Regions from separate parts of the Homo sapiens genome. Here all the other regions are linked to region 1. The links come from fine-mapping of genetic effects on gene expression. A gene starts in region 1. Each other region holds a variant in brackets. All regions are shown on one strand. Distances are between the middles of the regions. Region 1 holds the start of PRDM4 (PR/SET domain 4). Region 2 holds the start of PWP1 (PWP1 homolog, endonuclein). Region 3 overlaps ABTB3 (ankyrin repeat and BTB domain containing 3). Region 4 overlaps PRDM4 (PR/SET domain 4).

Region 1 (6,459 bases):
AAATTCATTGAATATCTAATATATGCCAGGTATAGTGCTATGTTGTATAGCATTAAATAAGATAGACATGAATCTTCTCCCCAAAATTTAAAATGTATTTGGCAAAATAGAAAATTAAACAATTAATTACAATAAAGATAGGTACTATGAGAGAGCATACAGTGGGCCTAGTCTGGGGAGTAGAGTCAGAACACTTCAATTTTTGTTAATCTTGACATAATTTTTTAATTGAATTTTTGAGGTATTTTTACATACAATAAAATTCACCAATGTCAAGTTTACTATTTGATTAATTTGGACAGATGTATACAATTGTGTAACCTCTACCACAATCAAGACCATTTTCATCACTCCTAAAAGTTCTCTTATGCCCCCACTGTAGGCAATCTCATCCCCCAACCCATTCCCAACTTCTGACAATCACTTCTCTGCTTTCTATTACTACAGTTTTGCCTTTTCTAGAATTTCTCATACCTGGACTCATAATATGTAGTCTATTGTGTCTGGTTCCTTTCACTTAGCATAATACGTCTTTGAGATCCATCCATGTATCAACAGCTTGTTCCTTTTTATTTCTGAGTATTCCACTGTATAGATACTGTACACTATCATTATTCATTTACCAGTTGATGGACATTTGGGTCATTTCCTGTTCTGGCCTATGACAGATAACGCAGCTATGGACATTGGCGTACAAGTCTTTGTACATATGTTTTTATTTTTCTTTGGTAAATACCTAAGGAGTGTGGAGAATTGGATGGTATAAGAGGTATAAGAAATTGCTGGCCAGGCATGGTTGCTCATGCCTGTAATCCCAGCACTTTGGGAGGCTAAGGCAGGTGGATCACTTGAGGTCAGGAGTTCGCAACCGGCTTGGCCAACATGGTGAAACCCCATCTCTACTAAAAATACAAAAGTTCGCCAGGCATGCTGGTGAGCACCTGTAATCCCAGCTACTGGGGAAGCTGAGGCAGGAGAATCACTTGAACCCAGCAGGCAGAGGCTGCAGTGAGCTGAGACCACAGCACAGCACTCCAGCCTGGGTGACAGTGAAACTCTGTCTAAAAAAAAAAAGAGAGAAAGAAAAAAGAAAGAAATTCTAAAATGGCTGTGGCATTTTTTTTGCATTCCCACCAACAAAATGTGAGGGTGCCAGTTGCTCCATATCTGTGCCAACACTTGTTATAGTTGGTCTTTTTAATTGAAGCCATTCTAGTAAGTGTGTAATATCACTTCATTGTGCTTTGATTTGCATTTCTTTGATACCTAATGATGCTGCACATCTTTTTGTGTGCTTAATCGCCATCCATATAGCTTCTTTGGTGAAATGGCTGTTGAAATTTTTGCCTAAGTTTTTAAATTTAATTGTCTTCTTATTATTGTGTTTAAAGGGTTCTTTATATAGTCAAGATACAAATCCTTTGTCAGATATTTGTTTTGAAAATATTTTCTCCCAGTCTCTCACTTGACTCATTTTGTTGACAGTATCTTTTCAAGATCAACCATTTTAATTTTGATGAAGTTCGATTTGTCATTTTTTTTTTTGAGATAGGGTCTCTCTCTGTCACCTGAGCTGGAGTGCAGTGGCACAATCTTAGCTCATTGCAACCTCATACTCCTGGGCACAAGCTATCCTCCTGTCTCAGCCTCCCAAGTAGCTGGGGCTACACGTGCATACCACCATGCCCAGCTAATTTTTTTTATTTTTTGTAGAGACAGGGTCTCACTTTGTTGCCCAGGATGGTCTCAAACTCCTGGGCTCAAGCGATCCTCCTACCTCAGCTTCCCAAAGTGCTGAGGAGAGAGCCACTGCACTTGCTCCAATTTTTTAATAGTTTGTGATTTTTTTGTCCTATCAAGGTCACAAAGATTTTTGCCTTTATTTTCCTCTGTAAGTATTATGGTTTTAGCTCTTACATTTATGTGACCTGATTTTTATGTTCACCTCTCAACTTAATAAAATTGTTCCAAAAGAACAGACATCCAAACCCAAACCTAGTGAAAGCATTCGGCCGGTAATAAGATACATCATCATTCTCTAGGCTCCAGATTTGAAGTGGCATTTCAGGGAATACTGTCTCTCAGTTGAGATGATGACCTTCTTGATTTAGATTTCTATTTGTTGTCAACAGAGAGCAAAACCAATGTGACCTGCCTGCCAATGTTCAGTGAAGTTTCCTCATCTGGAATGTGCTTTCCCCCCATGAGAAGTAAACGAAGGGAAACATTATGGGGGTTGACACCCCTCCCAGCTCTCGTCCAAAAGGTTGCATGTGCCTCTACCCTTTCACATTAGACTGAATTTTCAAAATTCATCAGTTCCCACTAGACTGCAGGCAGGTGAAGGTCAGGGCTTGTGCCTTGCTCTGTATCCCTAGGTTTGAGATGTAATTCAACAGACGCTTTGTGAATGACAGGAAGAATTCCTGGGTCTGCTGTTCTGCTGGTGTAAGGGAGCCACCAGGCAGTGTGGTGTAATTTCAACGTCTACTGCTCAGGAGCTTGGGACCACCTTCCTTTAAAGCCATCTCGGTACTCCTAGCGTTAGGCACAGTGCCTGGCGCGCAGTAGAGAACTGAGGGCAGAGAAAAGGGGAAGGAAATTTTGTTTAAAATCCCAAACCCCAGCATTTACGACGGGAAGCAGGGAAACTGGGCAGCCTTCAGGTGTAGCAGACGGCCGAAAATATTCAGGATAGAATCCCAATTCCTCCTGGGCAGCAGAGGCAACCCTCGGGGCCAAATCCCATACTTCGAATTTTGGGGGCTTTGTGTGGACCCATGCTTCTCTAGTAGGGGAATGTCATGAAGACGAAATCCTGAGTCTGCGGGATTTAGGGGATTCAAAACTCAATCCCTGCAGGAACAGCAGCCCTGGTCGCCTAGCAACCATGGGCCGATCGCTCGGCGCTCGATTCTACCCGGCCGGATGGAGACGCGGAACTCCCGGCCGAGCCTCTCGCGGCCAGTGCCTCTGCCGTGCGCACGCGCGGAGGGGCCTGGGCTGGGAGAAGGGCGACGCGGTGCGCGGGCGCCGCTTGCGGGCCGCGGCGGGGAGGGCGCACGCACGAGGGGCGGAGCGGCGGGCGCTGAGAGTGGCTGAGGATCCGGAAACGCGCCGCAGAGGGTGCGGCCCAGAGGAGGCCGCGGGCCGGGAAGGGCCGGGCGGGACGGGAAACGTTAGGGCAGCGGCCCCCGGGGTGAGGGGGCCGAGCGGACGGGCAGGGCCCCGAGGCGAACTCTGCCCGGATGAGGAACAAAGCAGTGGGGCAGGCGCGTGCGCCCCCAGCGCAGCTGGCAGGTGGGCTGCGCGCGGGCCCGGCCGGAGCGGGGCGGGGCGCGGCGGCCCGGCCTGCGGGCCGCGGGCGGGCTAATCCACAGCCCTTGGGTGGCGGTGTCGGCAGCGCCTGGGGCTTTCGGGTAGCTGGGATGGGGGCTGCGACCTTGTTGTGGTTTTGGTGACCGCTCTTGTCCCCACTCCCCCAGGTTGGGCAGCCCCCTTCCCGAAGCTTCTGGACGGAAGGCCCCAGGTGTTCCCCGAGATGCCCCAACCCGTGGCGGGGTGCACGGCCACCGGCCCTCGGGAGAAGTTGGGCGGCCCCGGGCGACCCCGGGGACGAGTGGCCGCGTCGGTGCAGCGGTTGTGAGCAAGATGTGGTAGCACGTGACCCTGGAACGCAAACCCTGATGCCTGTTCCCCACCACCCGAGCGCTCCTTTCTCTGATATTTGGCCCCAAGCCGATGCATCACAGGTGAGTAGGGAGGTGGGCTTCAGCACTGGTGACATCGTTGGAAACTCTGGCGAGTGAGTGTCCAGGGTCAGTGCCGTTGTTTTTGGTGCCATTGAGAAGGTTACAGGTGTGATTTGCAAAGGAAACAAATCCAGAAACTAGTGTTGGGTGGAATGTAATCTCATGCATCCTAATTTACTCCACATGTGGAAAGTTGTTCCCAGTAGCCACACGTTTATTGTTGGCTTGTTGACACCTTTTCCTGTGTCTTTCAGTTATTTGAGCGTTTAATATATTTTTCCGGATTCCAACGTGTATTGTTATCTTATTATGCTTCACCTTGAGTTTTGCTGGTATGGCAGGGACGATAGTGAGGGAATTAAGTTCTTAATTCTGCAAGCTTCATGCTGATGTTTAAGTACAGAAGCAGGCCACAGAAATTGTTGCATTTGGCTGTTTTTTCAAGGCCCTTTCAAAGGCCGTATGTTTAGAATAAGGAAGATAAGGCACAAATTCATTGAAATTATTGAAGCCCCACTGCATTTTTCAAAGTGGCTGCATTTCAGTTAGTTTATTATATTTTATGCGAAGAAAAAGGTGTAAAATCAGCAACTGGCAGATGGTTGCATAGGTCAGTTAGAAACACACACATAAACTGTAGAACTGTGTAGGAAATTATTTTACCCTAAATGAGTAGGGAAGATAGAGCTTAGTATCTTGATTCTTGCCTTCTTCCGGGATTGCTTCTTAGAATCTCATAGGAGAAAGAAAATGAGAATAGAACTGCATTTTAGAATGAGAAAGTCTTATGAGGATCATATTGTACATTCCCTTCATCTGCCTTCTCTCTGTGGGATACTCATTACCTTTGGTTTATGGCTGCTGAGGTCATCACGTTTTAGTGACTCACAACAAAGCAGAAATCTGCTGAGCCTCTCGCATTAAACTCTGGTTTGAACTGGTTTGAGAAGGCCTAGGAGTCAACCTAGAAACACCATGCTGATTTTTATCTTGAAATTAAATAAATATTCAGGAATTTTCAGAATGAGAGTTGAAGGTGCAGACTTGTAGTTGTACTTTTAAAAAAATATTGTAACCAATTTGTTAAGTAGGCTGTTACAGCTGTAGTGATTGTAGTGTTTTAATTATGGTTGTAGCTATAAAGAGTTAGGGAAAAGTCTGTTTTAAACCAACTCAAGCCCAGCAACTTTCAAAATTAAGGTAGATATGTTTTCTTTAGGCTACAGGGATTTTTTGCTTTTTTTGTTTTTAAGACACAGTCTCACTCTGTCACCCCAGCTGGCGTGTAGAGGTACAGGCAGAGCTCACTGTAGCCCCGACCTCCCCACTTCAGCCTCCCCTGTAGTTGGAACCACAAGCACGAACCACCATGCCTGGCTAAGTTAAAAAAAATGTTTAGTAGAGACAGGGGTCTCACTGTGTTGCCTAGGGACGTCTCCAAGTCCTGGGCTCAAGCGATCCTTCTGCCTTGGCCTCCCAAAGTGTGGGATTACAGGTGTAAATCACCACACCTGGGCTGCTTTATTTTATAGCATAATAAAAACTGTTATTAGCATGCTGTTCTTCATAAGGTGTACCTCATTTGCCAGGTGCTTCTAGCTGTCTTTCTGGTAAGGGTGATGAGTTTGCATAGCTCCATCCGATAAAATAAGAAAATTCAGAATGTCTGTTCTATACAAGGTACTAGGTTGGCCTTTTACATTTTATTGATGTCTTAGAGCTTAGTTTTATGGGATCCATGGCCAGGGATAAGGGTGAAACCTAATAATGCAAGAAACAGGTCTATGTGGAACTTTAAATATACGCCACAATATAAGTAGATAGGCCCTAATGTATTGCAACTGTGTAAAAGGCAATATAGTTCTTTTATTGTAATTGTCTTTTTCTTACTATAGTTAAGAGCTTTGGTTTCTTAAATTAGTTCTGAATTTAAATCCCAGCTCTCCTTACTGGTTATGTGATTCTGGGTTAAGTTTCCTAGCATCATTGAATCTTAAGTTTCCTCATCTTTAAAGTGGGATTAAGAATAATACCTACCTCCAGCCTGGGCAACATAGGGAGACCCCATCTCTGCAAAATAAAAACAAATTAGCCAGGCATGGTGGCACTTGCCTGTGGTCCCAGCTGCTTGGGGGCTGAGGTGGGAAGATCTCATGAGCCTAGGAGGTAGAGGCAGCAGTCAGCTGTGATCACGCCACTGCACTCCAGCTTGCAGCTACTGAGCAAGACCCTGTCTCAAAAACAAAAAAAAAAAAAAAAAAAAAAAGAAGATTAAGAGAGATAGTTACATATAAATCACTTAGCCCAATACATAGCACATGGTAAGGGAGCCATAAATTTTAGCTATTATTATTTTCAGGTTGATTGATAAAATGGCATTGCCATTTTTCAGAATTAAAAACCTATTTAGATTTGATTTCACTGCTAAGGAATATGTAACCTCATTTGATTCCTCTTCTCTGCTTCACCCCCTCCCATACGCAGAGAATAAAGCCCAGTGTAAGGACTGGAGGTCATTAGAGAGCCCCTTTTGGGTAACCTGTTGGCTAGCCTAGTGGTTCTGTAATGTTTATAGTATGGCAGTCTCTAAATTATGATATAAGAACTAATACTTTTTGATAACAACCTTCAGTGCTGTTTTATTCAAATCAGTATTACTCTTATTCGAAAGACATTTGTAATGGCAGTGCAAGATGGTTTGCATAGA
Region 2 (6,459 bases), 75 kb after region 1:
TACATTCCAAGACCCTCAGTGGTGGTCTAAAACCACAGATAGTACCAAACCTTATATACATTATGTTTTTCCTATATGTACCTAGGAATCAAATAATGATAATATACTGTAATAAAAGTTATGTGAAAGTCATCTCTCCCAAAGTACTGTACTTTACTCACTTATTTTCAGACTGCAGTTGACTGTGGCTAACTGAAACCGAAGAAAGCAAAACCGTGGATAAGGGGGGACTACTGTATTGTGAGAAGACTGACTGCAGTTGAGGAAAAGGTATATGGATATAAGTTCAAGCACACCATAGCATTATAACTGCATACAAAAACTCACAAGTGGGTTACAGATTATTAAACCTGATATATGCAATAAAATACACAGTACTTTTTTTTTTAGATCCTAGATTTGTATCTTAGTGGGTTAGAGTTTATCTTCTAAACTAGTTTAGGAATCATGCTGTCTGCCCAAGTCTTCAACCAGATTATCTTACTGATGTCAAGAACAATAAAATCTAAGAGTAAAGCTTTGGAACACCACAAACATGATCCAACATATTGAGCTTGTAATTACAAACCATCAGAAGTGGATAAACTAACCTGGGTCACCTTCCTCATCATATTTATCTAAGTCGTACTCAGCCAGCTCATCATCATCAAGCGTCCTGTCATCCTCTGGGTCACCATCCTCCAGGGGCTCTCTTGGGCGTGCCTGGGTGCGTGCACTCTGCATGCCATCTTCTGAAGGACTGCCTGTCTCCTCTTCATCACTGCCACCACCTTCTTCTCTATGAGCACAGAAAGAAAAAGAGAATCACCCAAATGCTACCTTCTAATAACAAGACCACATGGTCATCATCATTTAAGATATAGATTTCATCTGGTCCTAAACTTACTGCAATTTCTCCTTTGCCTCAGCAATGAGGCGTTTTACTTCTTCTTTACTCAGCTCTACCTGTAAGAGAGCAAAGATTTCATTACAATATGTGTAAGGAAATCATCAAATTATTTGAATTAAAAAGTAGTTTGCAAACAAATGTAAAATGTAACGCCAAGCAATGTCATCAAGATAAGAATCAAACATCAATCCAGACTCTATATTAAAAAATATAGATTTTATAGATTCTTACAAATAAGATCTCTCGCTACCTGAAACTTCAAAAATCATGCTCATTCTACTCCACCTCTTAGTCTTAAAACTCCAAAGACTGGTTTTGGTAAAGTGGCTGTGTGGTACTCGTCTGGTTTTCTTCCAACCATCTCTGACTCTGTCTAGGGCACCTCTCCCTCTCTTCCCTGTGGGCATTCCTTAACAAATCACCCTTACATGAGTCCTCTGTTCTTTTTTTTTTTTTTTTTTTTTTTTTTTTTTGAGACGGAGTCTCGCTCTGTTGCCCAGGCTGAAGAGCAATGGCGCCATCTCGGCTCACTGCAACCTCCACCTCCCGGGTTCAAGCGATTCTCCTGCCTTAGCCTCTTGAGCAGCTGGGATTACAGGCACGCGCCACCACGCCCAGCTAATTTTTGTATTTTGGTAGAGACTGGGTTTCACCATGTTGGCCGGGCTGGTCTGGAACTCCTGACCTCAAATGATCCACCTGCCTCGGGCTCCCAAAGTGCTGGGATTACAGGCGTGAGCCACCGTGCCCGGCCTTAATTTTAATTTTTAAGAGATGTGGCATGGTCACAGCTCCCTGCAGCTGTGAACTCCTGGGCTCATGCGATCCTCCCACCTCAGCTTCCTGAATGACTAGGATTACAGGCACGAGCCACCGCAACTGGCTTGTCCAATTTCTCTCATTTGGTCCAAGTTTTCCTTTCTAGGATTTCATAAATTCAATCTCTTTTTCCTATAAACTCTTCAAATAGTGGTTCCCAGACTTATCTGTACATCAGAATCACCTAGGGAATCTTAAATAATTTAGGCTACACTACAGGCTAATTACAACACAATACTTGGGAGTGGGACATAAACATCAGTATTTTTTGAACCTCCCCAAGTGTGAGATTTTCAATGTGTAGATTCATTTGGAAATCAGTCTTCAAGTATTTGAAAGGCTATATGTCTCTTTTTAATAACTGTTTCCTCCAACAATTTTTATATGAAATAATTTTCTGTCCCTATTCTATAAATGTAACACCGAGTGCCTACCATCAACCAAACCCTGGAGAAACAGTAAATAAAACAGTCTGTGCCCAGGTGGAATTTACAACTACTGGGACTACTCCAATCCGTCATTCCTGTTAACTCCATGTCCAAGCCAATCACATTCCTATCACCATCATCATTATCTTGGTCAAGTACATTCAAATCAACCCCTTTTACTGTTTGGTAGAACTTAACTCCCACTGACATACTATATGTGCACATGTCGACTCCATAAAGGCAGGGTCTTTTTCTATTTTTTTTTTTTTTTTTTTTTTTTTTTTTTTGAGACGGAGTCTCACTCTGTTGCCCGCCCAGGCTGGAGTGCAGCTGTGCGATCTCGGCTCACTGCAAGCTCCGCCTCCCGGGTTCACGCCATTCTCCTGCCTCAGCCTCCCGAGTAGCTGGGACTACAGGCATCCACCACCACACCCGGCTAATTTTTTGTATTTTTAGTAGAGACGGGGTTTCACCGTGTTAGCCAGGATGCTCTCGATCTCCTGACCTCGTGATCCGCCCGCCTTGGCCTCCCAAAGTGCTGGGATTACAGGCGTGAGCCACCGCGCCCGGCGGGACTTTTTCTATTTTGTTCATGCCTATCCCAGGACCCTGAACAATGCCTGGCCTACAGAAAGCACTTAGTATCCAATGAGGAAATTACTTAAGTAATCGTCACCTCTGCTACAGTCTCAGTCTCCAACTCTTGTAGGTTTTTCATGTGTTAGACATTTACCTCTCATCCTCCCTGCTACCATCAACATCTCACTTGGATTACTGCAAGAAATTCCCTATTCATCTCCCAGCCTCACGACATCTTAGCCTCCACACCAGTTTTTCTACACCACATTCATCCTCACTCCTTCAGACACGGAGCACAAGAGTGGAAAGTGGAGTTTTCATGCTCTCTTCCCAGTTATGCTTGAAAATGCACTTGGGTGCTAGTGAAGCTAGTGGTGTTGTCAAAAAGCCTTTTGGGGTATTACCCACCAAAAACAGCAGCCCACCCCTTTCCGGCCCGCTAAGTCCATGTGCGTGCGAATTTGGGAGTGGGGTTGGGCTTGAGGGTGGGAACAGTGAGAAGGCGCGGCCCTTGACTCTCCAGGCTCAGGCGAACCAGACCTTCTGAACTGCAGCTCTAGTCGCGACAATCCGGGCAAAGCCGCCCTCACCCCAGCCAGTCGCACCAGCCAACGCCCCGAGTTCCGGGTCCACGTTCCCCCAGCTGGGCGGACCCCCAGTGCCGTAAAGACGCTGCTCCCCTTGTCTCCCAGCGACCAGGCCTCACCTTGTCTGGTGTCTCTTTGGCCACGCCGCAGCGGACCCAGGCCACGCACGTCACCTGGCGGCTGCGGTTCATGGTCCTCAAGTCAAGGGCGTGTCACGCTAGAAACCAGGCTGCATAGGGAGGGACCACGACCGCACTGCTGCCACACGCTCAGGGATCTGCACAGGGCCGCTGCCAGGGCAGAGCGCATGCGCAGGCTCCTGTTTGGGCAGCGTCGGCGCTCATTTCAGACGTCATTCTGAGGCGCCGAATGAGAAATAGGAGGGGACAAAATGGAAGCGGAAGCAGCCGGGCGAGGAATC[C/T]ACGTGGGCTGGTCTGGGCTGTGTGAAGTATAGAGAAAAGGCTTTTCAGGACTGCATGTGACGATGCCTGCGGGCTTTGTAAAGGCCAAGAAAATATTTGGGACTGTAGGGGTCAGTCAGAAGCAAAGTTTCACCAATCTTTATTTTGCTTGCAGTTCCGTAGACTTCAAGCTGACAAATGGCAGAGGTTTGTGGTTTGCGTTTTTTAAAAAGCTTTCTCCAAAATGAATTTGTCGTTTCACGGAGATCCCACCATTACATCTCATTACATCCCTAAATGTTACTTTCTCACCTTAAAACATTTAGCACCAAAAAAAAAAGTGAGAAAAAAACATTTAGCACCAATTATATACTAACTATGCAGTAGTGATTTAGTCTTGGCAAACACAAAGGGCTTACTTATGTTGAAGGCGCTGTTTTGAGTGCCGTATCACGTGATTACTTACCCCTTTGTGGGAGGTCTTATTTCCGTTTTACACCTGGGAAAACAGCGATCCTTCCAAAGGTCACACTGCTAGTAAGCGGTGCAGCTGGGATATGAACCCGGGCAGTGTGACTCCCTTGTATCTATGTCATGCTTCTCAGCTAAGATCAGTCATCTGTTAGAACTCGTGAGTGGCTGGACGTTTGTAGAATGGAAAATCTCAAACTAGCATCCCAGAAAAATCTGGGTTTTGATCTCTTGGCTGTGTGGCCCTGTCCTGGTCATTTACCCTCAATGCATCTACCTCTGAGAGAGGCAAGCAAAAGAAACAGGAAGGTGGCTGCTATGGGGAAACAGTGGCAAGGATAAACTGGCAGTACACATGGTCTTTCCCAGTGGCATTGTCAAACGGGGGGTGTCCACCTGTGGGCTCTATTCGGGGACCTTTTTGCAACACATTTATCTTTCTATACAGTATTTTACTTGGTTCTCACAACACTTTGTTTTAAAGATGAAGCTAGAGTCCCCAGTAGTCAAATACTTTCCTACTCAGATCACACACAGAGGAGCTGATACAACTATGAGTTCTGTCACCAACTCTACTCAGCCTAATGCGCTTGGCAATCTCCCTGCCTGAGGAGAGATCCTCCCAGAAGTAAATTGCTCATTGTTTGTGTAGGCAGATTATTTGTCCATTAAGACTTCTCCCCCTGCTCTGTTTCTGTAAGATGATTCTTCTGTGGTTTCTTTGCTTTTAACCCATTTTAGAAAGACCATATGGCAGATAATATTTTTCAAGGATGGCTGCAACAATAGAGTCCTTCACACATGTTTGTCTGCAACGTGATCTTGATATTCCTCCATCAAAGCACCCCCCCCCGCCCCCACCAACTTGAATCTGGGTAGTTGTAGGTCTGCTTTGGCCAATAAAGTATGACAGAAATGATGTTTCCAAGGTTAAGTCATAAATAGGATGCAGGTTTTGCTTCCCCACCACCACACCCACTTCTCCACTTCCACACCCCCCACCCACTCCCCCACTGCCCACCAGTAGAACACTAATGTTTGGAGCCCTGAGCCACCATATAAAGTTTGGCTACTGTGGTAGTCTGTTCTCACACTGCTAATAAAGACATACCCAAGACATGATAATTTATAAAGAAAAAGAGGTTTAATGGACTCACAGTTTCAGTTGGCTGGGGAAGCCTCACAATCACTGCAGAAGGCAAAAGAGAAGAAAGGCATGTCTTACATGGCAGCAGGCAAGAAGAGAGCATGTGCAGGGGAACTCCCCTTTATAAAACTATCAGATCTCAGCTGGGTGCAGTGGCTCATGCCTGTAATCCCAGCACTTTGGGAGGCCGAGGCAGTTGGATTACAAGGTCAGGAGTTCTAGACAAGCCTGGCCAACGTAGTGAAACCCCGTCTCTACTAAAAATATAAAACTTAGCCGGGCATGGTGGTGCATACCTGTAGTCTCAGCTACTTGGGAGGCTGAGGCAGGAGAATCACCTGAACCCAGGAGGCGGAGGTTGCAGTAAGCCGAAATCGCACTGCTGCACTCCAGCCCGGGCAACAGATCAAGACTCTGTCTCAAAAAATAAAAATAAATAAAAATAAATTAATTAATTAATAAAACCATCAGATCTCATGAGACTTATTATCATGAGAAAAGCACAGGAAAACGCCGCCCGTATGATTCAATTACCTCTCACTGGGTCCCTCCTATAACACATGGGGATTATGACAATTCAAGGTGAGATTTGGGTAAGGACACAGATCCCAAACCATATCAGCTACCCTGAGTCCACTATGCTGTTAGGAAACCAAACCACATGGAGAGACCACATGTGGTACTCCAGTAGACAGTTGTAGTTTTTGAGTTAACCCAGACCTGTAAATGAAAGTGCCTTTAGGTGAATCCAGCTCCCAGACATTGATTCACTCCCAGCGTTTGAGCTTGCTCAGCTGAGACCCAGCCATCATGGAACAGAGACAAGACATCCCCACTGTGCCCTGCCCAAATTTCTGACCCCCAGAATTTGTGAGCTTAGTAAAAGATTGTTTCTAACCACTAACTTTAAAAGAAAAAATCCTTCCATAATTTTTATTATAGTAAAATATACATAACACAAAATTTGCCATTTTTAAAAAGAGACAGATTTAGGGTGGGCTCCGTGGCTCGGCCTAAATCCACTTTGCCCTCCTTTGAGAGGCCAGCACTTTGGGAGGCCAAGGCAGGAGGATCACTTGAGCCCAGGAGTTTGAGGCCGACCTGGAAAACAGCAAAATCTTGTCTCTACAAATAAAAA
Region 3 (5,000 bases), 130 kb after region 1:
CCTTAAGTTTGAGAACCACAGGTTCCATGCACTGAAATTCTGTCATGGGTTCGACCTGGGCTGTGGGCTATAAATTTGTTTCCTCTGGCCTAAAGCCCTGCCACCCAAAACGTGCTCCATAGACCACAAGCAGTAGCATCCTCTGGGATCCTGTAAGAAATGCACACTCTCATTCAGGCCCACTGAATCAGAATCTGCATTTTTAACACACTCTGCAGGTGACTCCCATGCACATTCATGCTTGAGAAGCACTGTGTGGTAAGAATAATTATGGCCTCCTAGAAGATTGCATGCCCTAATAACCCCTGGGACTGGGACCATGAACACGTTACTTTACATGGCAAAAGCGACTTTGCAGGAGTAATTAAGGTTAGTGCTTTAGTCCATTAGGGCTGCTAACAAAATACTCTAAACTGGGTGGCTTATAAAGTGCAGAAATTTATTTCTCACTGTTCTGGAGGCTACGAAGTCTAAGATCAGCGTGCCCGCAGACTCGGTGTTTGGTGAGGGCCCACTTTCTCATAGATGGTGCCTTCTAGCTATGTCCTCACGTGGTAGAAGGGGTGCTGAGGCTCCTCTGGGGTGTCTTTTGTAGACCTACTCACCTCCCAAAGACACCACCTCCCAATATCACCACCTTGGGGGTTAGGACTTCAACATTTAAATTCTGGGGGGACAAACATTCAAGAGCATAGCAGTTCCTCATGAGTTGACCTTCAAATAGAGAGATTATCCTGGATTATCTGGGCGAGCCCAAAGTAATCACATGAGCCCTTAAAAGTAGAAGCAGAAAAGGACTTCAGACGGGAGGGGGGAGAACAAGATGACAAAGAGATCCCAGTCTGAGAAGGACTTGATGCTCTGTTGCTGGCTTGAAGATGGAGGGGCCACATGGCAAGCTCGTGAGGGGACTCAGGTAACCACACTAGGAGTTAAGTGTGACACCAACAGTCAGCAAGGAAGTAGGACCTCAGTCCTACAGCCACAAGGAACTGAACTCTACCCAAAAATCTCTGAAAGAGCTTGGAAGCAATTCTTCCCCAAAGCCCCCAGAAAGGAACACAATCCTGCTGACTCCTTGATTTTGCCCTTGAGATTCTAGGCAGAGAACCCAGCTGGGTCACACTGCACCCAGATTTCCAACCCAGAGAAGCCATGAGATAATAAACAGGTGTTGCCTTACGCCTCTGAATTATGGTCATTTGTTACTGCAGCAATAGAAAACTAACACATCTCATCTAAAGTTTACATCTATTGGACCACATTTCATCATCTCTGTGATCCAGAGTGCCAGACACATAGTGGACACGTGGTAAGTACTGGCTGGTCATAAAAAAGATAAGACCTGTTATCTGCAAAAATGCTTTGTACAGACTGTATTATGAAGGTTAGGGATGAGGTCTCACTCATCTACACCAGGGTGTGTCTCGTGCATCTTGCTGGTGAATCAGCTTCCTTCTAATCAACTCCGAGTGAAGCAATAAGAACCCATTTCCTGGACTCTTGTGCCCTTGAGAGAGGCATGTACAGTCTGTAGACTCTTTTGCGAGTTTTTCTTTTTTGGCGGACAGCGGTGGTGGTTTAACTCGATTCAGGAGGTATTGATTAAACATGGAAGAGGTGTCCTGCAGTGTGAAAGGCACTCTTTTGGGGCCACAGAAGCAGGCAAGGCAAGACCCCTCCTCTGCTGGAACTCACAGTTGACCTCTCTTTCTAACTTCAGTGTGTACTCTATCATCTGAGAATGTAAATATAAGGGCTGGCCATGCTTGTTCCAAATGGACAATCTTCAAATACGTAACAATGGTCAGGGGGAGGTGCAACTCCCCACTTTTTAGGTGAGGGCAGTGCATGCTCACTGCATTCCAAAGAGGACGGTATGGAAAAAGGGGAAGAGAGGAAGTTTACAGTAGAGAAACTCGACAAACACTGCCTCAGCCAGGTGGCTCAGGTCAACATCAATAGTGATAACTCACCTTGATGGAATGTGCCCTTGATAAGGTGTCTTTCTCTCCAGGGTTTCCCTCTGAAAAATCCATAACCCCAGTCTAATCATGAGAAAAACATCAGGCATATTCCACTAGAGGGGCAGCCTACACATGCTTGACCAGTGCTCCTCAAAACTTTCAAGGTCACCCCAAACAAGGAAAGTCTGAGAAACTGCCTCTATCGAGAGGAGCCTAAGAGATATGACAATGAAGTGTAATGTGGTACTCTGGATGGGATCCAGGAGCAGAATAAGACACCAGGTACGAACTAAGGAACTCTGGCTATTTCTCAAAGAACTAAAAATAGAGCTACCATTGGACCCAGAAATCCCATTACTGGGCATATTCCCAAAGGAAAAGAAATCACTCTACCCAAAAGACCCTACCTGCACTCACATGTTCATTGCAGCACTATTCACAACAGCAAAGACATGGAATCAACCAAGGTGTCCATCAGTGGTGCACTGGATAAAGAAAACATGGTAAATATACACCACGGACTACTATGCAGCCATAAAAATGAATGAAATCATGTCCTTTGCAGTAACAGGGATGCAGCTGGAGGCTATTATCCTAAGTGAATGAATGTAGAAACAGAAAACCAAATACCCCATGTTCTCACGTGTAAGTGGGAGCTGATCACTGGGTACACATGGAAATAAAGTTGGGAACAACAGACAATGGGGATCCAAA[A/G]GAGGTAGGAGAGAGAGAAGGAAGGAGGCAAGGGCTGAAAAGCTACCCATTGGGCCCTATGTTCACTATCTGGGTGATGGATTCAATTGAAGCCCAAACCTCAGCATCATGTATATCCATGTAACAAACCCACACATAAACCCTGTGAATCTAAAACAAAAACAAAAACAAAACCCTAAGGAACTCTGAATAAGGTCTGGATTTTAGCTCATAATAATGTATCAATATTGGTTCATTAATTATAACAAATGTACCATAGTAATATAGCCTATTAATCATAGGGAAAAGTGAGTGAGGGGGTATATGGGAACTCTCTGTACTATCTTCTCAATTTTTCTGTAGATCTAAAACTGGCCTAAAAAAATAAAATCTATTTTAAAAACCCGGTGTGGTGGTGCATGCCTATAGTCCCAGCTGCTTGGGAGGCCAAGGATTGCTTGAGCCCAGGAGCTCGGGGCCCGCCTAGGCAACATCATGAGACCCTGTCTTTAAATTTTTTTTTTTTTAATTGGGCATGGTGGTGTATGACTATGGTCCCAGCTACTCGGGAGGTTGAGGTGGGAGGATGGCTTGAGCCCAGGAGTTTGAGGCCAGCCTAGGCAACATGGCAAAACCCCACCTCTAAAAATAAATTTTAAAAACTTCCTACCATGGAAATATGATTATAATGGAAGCAGTAGAAGTTCAGAAGAGAGAAAGAGGGAGGGTGGAGGCTTTAACTGAACATCAGGGGGCTCCCTACACTTCATCCATTCATTCGCCAGAGGTTTAGGGAATGTTTCCCCACTCACTAAGCTACATATTCACTCATTCATTCATTCATTCATTCTCCAAATATTTATTGAGCGTCTACTAAATGCCAAGCACTGGCTGGTTCCCGGGAGCTGGACATTGTGCAGAGGATTAGGGTGCTACGCCGTGGTGGCACCAAAGATGCTGCCTTTTACGAGGCTTTCTAGCCGCTTCTTTTTCAAGGAACAGAGTCCTAAGAGAAAACTCCCCGCTGCATCCTTGAATCTGTCCATGTTTGTGGAGGTGTCTGCCCTGTGCCCTTCCCAGTGCTCCTCCTCCAGGCAGTGGAGCACCAGTGTCATCTGTCCTGGTTACCTGGGACCCAATACGATTCTGAACTCCAGGAGGGCCCTTTTGAGTGTGAGGGGTGGTGTCATTCGTATCAGGTGACTGCTGTCAGGGGGTGAGATCCATAGGTCAGACTGTGATGATAAGCTGGGTTATCCTATGGGCTTGGTAAGTCCTGGATCAAAACCCAAAGACAATGGAATGGAAGCAACCAAACTTGAGGCTTGCTCCATTCTGGAGGCGGGAATGAGTGGTGGTTGTGCTGGGTCAGATGCCTGGATTCTCTGAGCAGCACATTTAAGCACAGTGCTTTAGGCCAAAGGGATAACAGGCTGCAGTCTCAGGGCAGCAGGCCATTTGGTCTTCACATGCAGGGTCTGACCTGGGAGGCCAGGATGAGTCCAGGAGGGTGGGTGGGTGGGGGTGGGGCCAGGCCTGAGGACACAGTACCCGGTTAGTGCATGTTACTGGCATGCTGCTGGGTACTTGCCATTCAAGTCCCTCACAGAAAATTCTAGATGTGCACATGGAGTAAATTCAGGTCCTCTGGACTCAGAACTGTGTGGTCATACAAAAGAACTAAAGGGGAGTGAAGCAAAATTCTTTTTTTTTGAGACAGGGTCTCTCCCTGTTGCCCAGGCTGAAGTGCAATGGTGCAACCCCAGCTCACTGCAACCCTGACCTCCTGGGCTCAAGTGATCTTCCCACCTCAGCCTCCCAGGTAGGTGAGACTACAGGTGTGCACCACTGTGCCCAGCTAATTGTGTGTGTGTTAGTGTGTGTGTAGATGAGGTCTCACTATGTTGTCCAGGCTGGTCTTGAACTCCTGGGCTCAAGAGATCCTCCTGCCTCGGCCTCTCAAAGTGCGGGGATTACAGGCATGAGCCACCACGCCTGGCCCTGCAAAATTCTTAATAGCATAGTTACCAGGAAACTCTCTTGAGATGGAGTCCTGTGAATTTGGGGGGTGACATCTTTCCTCTTCTCCTTTGACTCCACTCTTCTCCTAAAAAGATGTGGAAATACTTCCTTTTCTTCTGAAAGGAGCACTAGGATTACTCCCAAAGGTCCTTTATAGGTGGCTCAGGCTGGAGTTCTATGTGGTGGTAAAAACATAAACAATGGGACCAGATGGAGGGGGTCCTAGTTCTGGCCCTTCACTCACTAGCTCTGTAACCTTGGCAAAGTTACTCAGCTTCTCTGGGCCTTGGTGTTCTTTTCCAAAGAGGATTAAAAATA
Region 4 (6,459 bases), 21 kb after region 1:
AAGGCAGCCAGGCATGGTGGCTCACACCTTTAATCCCAGCACTTGGGGTGGCTGAGGTGGGAGAATCGCTTGAGGCCAGGAGTTCGAGACCAGCCTGGGAAACATAGCAAGACCCTCATCTCTAAAAAAAGTTTTTTTCAAATTAGCTGGGTGTTGTGGTATATGCATGTAGTCCCAGCTCTTGGGAGGCTGAGGTGGGAGGATCATTTGAGCTGAAGAGTTCAAGCTGTGATCATACTATGGTGGTGCTGTTGCATTCCAGTCTGGGTGACAAAGTGAGATTCTGTCTCAAAAAAAAAAAAAAAAAAGGCACTTACCAAGGAACAATATAGTTACCACTGAATTTGAAAGTGGGTGCCTTTTCTTTATATTGGCTGTTAGTCCACCCCTGAGTTACTGGAGTTAATTCTTGTTTAGCTAGCTAGCTCTATGTCTTTGTCATACTGTTTTTTAAAGACTTCATTTTATTTATCTTGTTTGCTTCCAATAACAGACTGTAGTGTTTTTGACTACAAAAGGTCATCAGCTAATATGTTGAAGTAAGAATTCTGTTTCTCTACAACTGCCTTCTCATAGATAGGACGGGAAATTACAAAAACATTCCAGAGGAAATAGTAAATAGTTCTGCCTAAGCTTTCATATAGGATTTTGCAATGGGGGAATGTTGTACTTAGTATGCATTTCAAAATTAATGTGCTTGATCTATTAAATGTGATAACTCAGGAACCGGGAAGAGCAGAATTTGGTGGCTTATCCTCATGATGGAAAAATCTTTTTCTGCACCTCACAAGATATCCCTCCTGAAAATGAACTGCTTTTTTATTATAGCCGAGATTATGCTCAACAGATTGGTAAGTTAATATGTGTTTATAATGAATCTGGCTTAGTAAAAATACCAAAGACCAGGATTAAAGTTTTGGTAATGATTTACATGTTAGCTGAAGCAAATCATATACCTTTGTTTGTATAAATGCAAACTATTACTTGTATTTGAGGTGTTAAAATCTGTGAGATTCTTCACAAGCTGAATGTTATTGACCAAGCAATAATTCATATGATACGGTCTTTTATGGTAGGACTTTGGTTTGGGGCATTGAAGTTCCTTAGGCTACTTTTCGAGCTAGCACCATTGAGATATAAATTCATGAAGGACAGCGAAGTCCCTCGGTTTGATTTAACCTGCATATGCTTTCTCTTTGCTGTGCTGTTTCATGATGACAGCTAATGTTTAAGAGTTTGGGTATGCTATAAAACCTAAATATTTTGCTTACAAAAGAGGCCTTATAATCCAGTATTTACCAAGTGCTTTCTTTGTGCCTGGTACACTATTTTATTTTACTTATGTATGTGTGTATTTAGAGATAAGGTCTCACTCTGGCAGGCTGGAGTGTAGTGGTGCAGTCATAGCCAACTATAACCTTCAACTCCTGGGCTCAAGCAGTTTCCTGCCTCAGTCTCCTGATTAGCTAGGACTATGGGTGTACATCACCATGCCCAGCCAATGATTTTTAAGTTTTTTTTTTTTATGGAGATGGGGTCTTGCTGTGTTGCCCAGGCTGATCTTAAACTCCTGGCCTCAAATGATCATGCCACTTTGGGCTCTCAAAGCACTAAGATTGCAGGCCTGAGCCACTGTGCCTGGCCCATAGTACATTATTTTAGATGCCCTTAGTACATTATTTTAGTTTTATAGGAAGTGGGCAAATTGGAAATATGGAGAGAAAGGAGAACTGGAAGCAATGATTGTTAATATCAAGAACAAGTTTTAAGATTCAAGTATTGGGAGATAATGAGTAATTTTTTTTTAAAAGGTGTTCCTGAACACCCAGATGTGCATCTCTGTAACTGTGGCAAGGAGTGCAATTCTTACACAGAGTTCAAAGCCCATCTGACCAGCCACATCCATAACCATCTTCCTACCCAGGGACATAGCGGCAGCCATGGGCCAAGTCACAGCAAAGAAAGGAAGTGGAAGTGCTCAATGTGCCCCCAAGCTTTTATCTCTCCTTCCAAACTTCATGTCCACTTTATGGGTCACATGGGTATGAAGCCCCACAAGTGTGATTTCTGTAGCAAGGCTTTTAGTGATCCCAGCAACCTGCGGACCCACCTCAAGATACATACAGGTAAGTTGTGTTGGCCCATCAGAATGGAATTTTTGCAACAATTAGAAAATGCGGTAGTAAAGGCTTTGTAGAGGGATTGTAGGTGGAGTTGAGATTTGATGTCAGAGAAAGAAACCTTCGTGGTTTAACTGAGATTCCTTGGAGGCTGTCACTTCCAATTATTAGGATGTTCTGCTTTCCAGGTCTCCCCACCATAGTTGGAAGGTGCCTGGGAAAATGCACTTAATAATCAGGAAGTTGATCAATGTGTTTGGTCTTAAATAGAAGCTTCTGAGTCTGAGTCTGAGCCTCTCATTAGAGCTCACCCCCCAGTCACCAGCCAGAGCCAGTTTCTCTCCTTTAATATTATTGCTCAATAAATATTGCCACAGTTTATTTTTTGAGCTTCCATTTTCTAAATCCCATGCAAACCAACACCTTTCTTTTAGTACTTTTTAAGAAAAAAAAAAATTTTTTTTTGAGATAGGGCCTCACTCTGTTGCCCAGGCTGGAGTACAGTGACACCATCTTGGTTCACTACTACTTCTGCCTCCAGGACTCAGGTGATCCTCCCACCTCAGCCTCCTGAGTAGCATGGACTGCAGACATGCGCCACCACACCTGACTAATTTTTGTATTTTTAATATAGATGGGGTTTTGCCATGTTGCCAAGGCTGGTCTTGAACTCCTGGGCTCAAACAGTCTGCTTACCTCAGCCTCCCAAAATGCTAGGATTATAGGCCTGAGCCACCATGCCTGGCCACTAACTTTTTTTAATAAATACTACAAAATAACTGATGGCTTTAGCTTTCTTGTTGGGGTCATCTTTTCTCCAGATCTTCAAAAGTTTCTTCCCCATCCTTTTGCAACAGAGACCTTATGGCCCACAAAGCCTAAAATTCTATCTATCCTTTAAGAGAAGGTTTGCTGACCCCTTAGAGGAATCTTATTTTTGCATTCTTGGAAGGATTTTGTTTCATCCCTGGTTTTGAGGCAATATTATATGTTTTAAAAAGATAGAAAACTATAAAATCTATCTTGTAAAAGTATGTTTC[C/T]CTATAGACACGTCCTAGAATTCATGAGTTTTTTTTTTTTTTCTTTATGTTTGTGTTAGGGCATTAGGATTATAAGTCATTTTTTTCAAGTTTTATGTATCACCTATACATTTTTTAAAAATACATATTTAGGTCAGAGGTCCTAAAGGAGATCAAATTAATTTACTAGCTTTAGTTGCAGAATATAAACTCAGGAGCTCTTGAGTGGTCTCACATAGACAACCCTAGAAAGTAAAATGCTGCTTACCAGTCAGCTCTGTTTCATTCCTGCCTCTGCTGCATGCACATATGTGTGCCTGTGTGTCTTGGGGATGCCAGCAGTTGTTTTCTTCACGGTGTAATACTTTGGGCTGATTGCAGGTCAGAAGAACTACAGGTGTACCTTGTGTGACAAGTCTTTCACCCAGAAGGCTCACCTGGAGTCCCACATGGTTATCCACACTGGGGAGAAGAATCTTAAGTGTGATTACTGTGACAAGTTGTTTATGCGGAGGCAGGACCTCAAGCAGCACGTGCTCATCCACACTCAGTAAGTTACCCTGCAGCCAAGACGTCGTTCCTCAGGTGGTGAGCCTTTGTGTGGCTGCAGCCCACCTGCTGATTGAAGGGCTGGGGAGTCCTGGCTCATCTGTTTCATGCCTTGGTACCATGGTAGATGCCTTCTGTGTTCCATGTAGCCAAGCCAAGGTTGGAACACTTTTTTTGGTGTTATCCTGGAAGATTTCAGTTGTTGGCTTTCTTTTTCTTACTTTTCACATGTACTCTTTTTTCACATCTACAAAAACCTAGAGACAAAAAGGACTATTGACTGCAAGTGGTTGCTTATAGTTAGACGATAGTGTGCATGTGAGAGAGTGATGGAGTGAGAAGAGTAAGAGTCAGCAGCCACACTATGGAGAACCTTTGGTCCTATTAAGAAAATTCAATTTCAGTCCAGAAATAATGGCGAGACACTGAAGGATCTGCCAGCCCCTGCCATTTTGGAACTGTTCTGTTGGTGTGTGTGTGTGTGTGTGTGTGTGTGTGTGTGTGTTTGTCTGAATTGCAGTTAAAAAAAAAAAATTGTTATCTTAACTGTTTGTAAGTGCCCAGTTCAATAGTGTTAGTTATATTCACGTTGTTGTGCAAGCACTATAGGATTTTAAGGAAAGGAGTGTCATAGTGACATACCCATTCTGTTAATACAAAGATTACTTAGGCAGCTGAACAGAGGATGATTGAGGGTGGGGAAGCCTAAATATTGGAAGACCAATTAGGTATTTATTGCATGAATCCAAGTGTAATTAAATGTCTAGACTGCATTAGTCACAGTGGTCATAGAAAGAAGAGATGGATTTTGTTGTCCTTAGCTTTTAACAAGTGTCAGAAGAGGAAGAAAATGTTTTCAGCTTATGTTATGGAAATTCTCTTTAGAAATCTTACCTTCACTGAAAACGTTATATTCTTAATGTAGAATTTGGATAAACACTTGGCTTTGATACCAGTTCTTCTGTCTGCTTCCTTATCACAATGCAGCCTGAGATGCTAAACAGCCAAGGAGCCTGGATCTACATTCCTAACTCTCAGAAGGATATTCTAAAACAAAGACTTCTTTAGTTCCATTGCTAGCATGAAATTTTACAAAATTAGACAGAAATTATCAAATATTACATCAAATTGTGCAATATTGGAGCCAAAAGAGATCCCCGGATCATCTAGTCTTAACATCCTGTCTAGGCAGCTCAGGTTGTGATAATAAAATACCACAGATTTTGTGGCTCAAACAACGGGAGAGACACAGTGAGAGAAGGCAGTCATGAGCAAGCCTGGAAGAGGGCCCCCACCAGAACCCAGCCAGGCTGGCACCCTGATCTCTGACTCCAGCCTCCAGGACTGTGAGAAAATACGTTTCTGTTGAGAGAATGAAAGAGAAAGAATATGAGAGTTCCAATCTCTTCTCATAAGGACACTAATCCTACATCATGGAAGCCCCATCCTCATGACCTCATCTAACCCTAATTGCCTTCCAAAGGCTCCACCTCACACTGGGTGTTAGGGCCTCAACATGTGAATTTGGGGTGAGGGGGGACAAATATTTGTCCAGAAGACTGCCCATTATAATTGCCTGGAAAATGTGAAAAACAACAATTGGTGCTAGGACCCCATCCATGGGAATTCTAATTTAATTGGTCAGAGTTAGAGCTCTGGCCTTGGTATTTTAAAAAGCTCCCCAAGTGATTCTCGTGGCCAGCCAGGGTTAAGGACTACTGACTTCATCCACATGCAAGATTGATTTCCACAATGTCTCTGGCAAGTGGATATATTGTTTCTTAAAGATCACACAATTATAGTTTGAGGAAAAGTTTTGCTTGAATCAAGTCGATATCAGCCTCTATCCTTTCATTTTACTTTTGCTTAACAAATGTGGATCTGGACTCCTTTTCAGGGTGAGAAGATATGGTAAGCCTCTTTGCCAAACTTTCATGGGATAGAAAGAAGGTTTTGGACTGTCAAAACTTAAAGCTGGTATAAGTCATTCTTATAAGAAGCACTGTTCCCTCAAAATGGTTTTGAATGAGGCTTTAGGCTTCCTATGGAGATCGTTGGTAAAATTTTCAGATGCTTGTATTTTTACTTTGGGGCATTTCAAAGTGGATATAGTAGTATTAGCAGTCTTTTTATTTATCTACTTAAAAAAAACAGCTACAGCCCTAATGCCAAATGCAAGAGGAGTTCCCCCCCTAGTGTCCCCCGAGAGTGGAAGGGTGGTGACAGAACCTGGCTTTGCCCTTCCTGTAAGAAAGAGGAAGTGAGCAGAAGAACAGTGATGTTTACTCCCCAGGTCATCTTGTCTCATGGCTTTAGATACCGTCATATGATTTATGTCTCCACCCTCATACACCTCACCATCACTCAGCGGCTCTGATGCTGGATGTTCGCTAGGCAACTTAAATCTTATGTGTCCAAAACTCAACCCAGTATTACCCCATGAATTTGATTTCCTCCAGTGCTGAGCAGCTCATTAAATGGCACCACCATTATTCACCTCAATGGTCAAGCCAAACACCTTGAAGTAATTCTCAACTCAGTTTTTCCTTCCTTCCTTCATTCAACTAACACCTTGTCCAGACCACCAGCTTTTCTTCTATGGATGGCTTCAGTAGCCTCCCAGTTGATCTCCCTGCCACTACTTGCTGTTTCTCCTCATCTACTCCGCAACACAGATGAACACACATACACACAGTTTTCTGTCCGCAGTGCCAGAGCAATCCATTTCAAATATAAGTCAGATTGTGCCTGTCTCCACTCATACATCTCTG

What was found. PIP is the estimated chance that this variant, and not a neighbour inherited with it, causes the effect. A credible set is the group of variants that fine-mapping cannot tell apart.
Region 2: its variant is the best candidate, but not a certain one, in a credible set for the expression of PRDM4 in whole blood (TOPMed, PIP 0.77).
Region 3: its variant is the best candidate, but not a certain one, in a credible set for the expression of PRDM4 in whole blood (TOPMed, PIP 0.85).
Region 4: its variant is the best candidate, but not a certain one, in a credible set for the expression of PRDM4 in whole blood (INTERVAL, PIP 0.64).

Annotation. Positions count from the first base shown.
Region 1 is chr12:107,757,798-107,764,256 of GRCh38, reverse strand. It overlaps PRDM4 (PR/SET domain 4), which reads left to right and starts at 3,120. Exons shown (of 12, transcript NM_012406.4): 1 at 3,120-3,300; 2 at 3,486-3,752. The coding sequence starts at 3,742. PRDM4-AS1 (PRDM4 antisense RNA 1) reads right to left here. Exons shown (of 5, transcript NR_120474.1): 4 at 5,865-5,982; 5 at 4,289-4,485. RefSeq lists silencers at 2,830-3,409, 3,460-3,569.
Region 2 is chr12:107,682,934-107,689,392 of GRCh38, reverse strand. It overlaps PWP1 (PWP1 homolog, endonuclein), which reads right to left and starts at 3,594. Exons shown (of 15, transcript NM_007062.3): 1 at 3,422-3,594; 2 at 887-945; 3 at 591-778. The coding sequence starts at 3,493. RefSeq lists enhancers at 3,256-3,305, 3,526-3,785 and a silencer at 6,215-6,459. The variant C/T (reference allele first, on the strand shown) is at 3,724.
Region 3 is chr12:107,628,796-107,633,795 of GRCh38, reverse strand. The region is part of intron 11 of ABTB3 (ankyrin repeat and BTB domain containing 3); the gene reads right to left. Among named protein-coding and RNA genes, the nearest start is that of PWP1, 55 kb to the left of the region's middle. RefSeq lists an enhancer at 1,170-2,369. The variant A/G (reference allele first, on the strand shown) is at 2,682.
Region 4 is chr12:107,736,613-107,743,071 of GRCh38, reverse strand. It overlaps PRDM4 (PR/SET domain 4), which reads left to right. Exons shown (of 12, transcript NM_012406.4): 9 at 724-851; 10 at 1,812-2,126; 11 at 3,521-3,689. It overlaps PRDM4-AS1 (PRDM4 antisense RNA 1), which reads right to left. Exons shown (of 5, transcript NR_120474.1): 1 at 6,125-6,459; 2 at 4,583-5,050; 3 at 3,408-3,945. Among named protein-coding and RNA genes, the nearest start is that of PRDM4-AS1, 3.3 kb to the right of the region's middle. The variant C/T (reference allele first, on the strand shown) is at 3,161.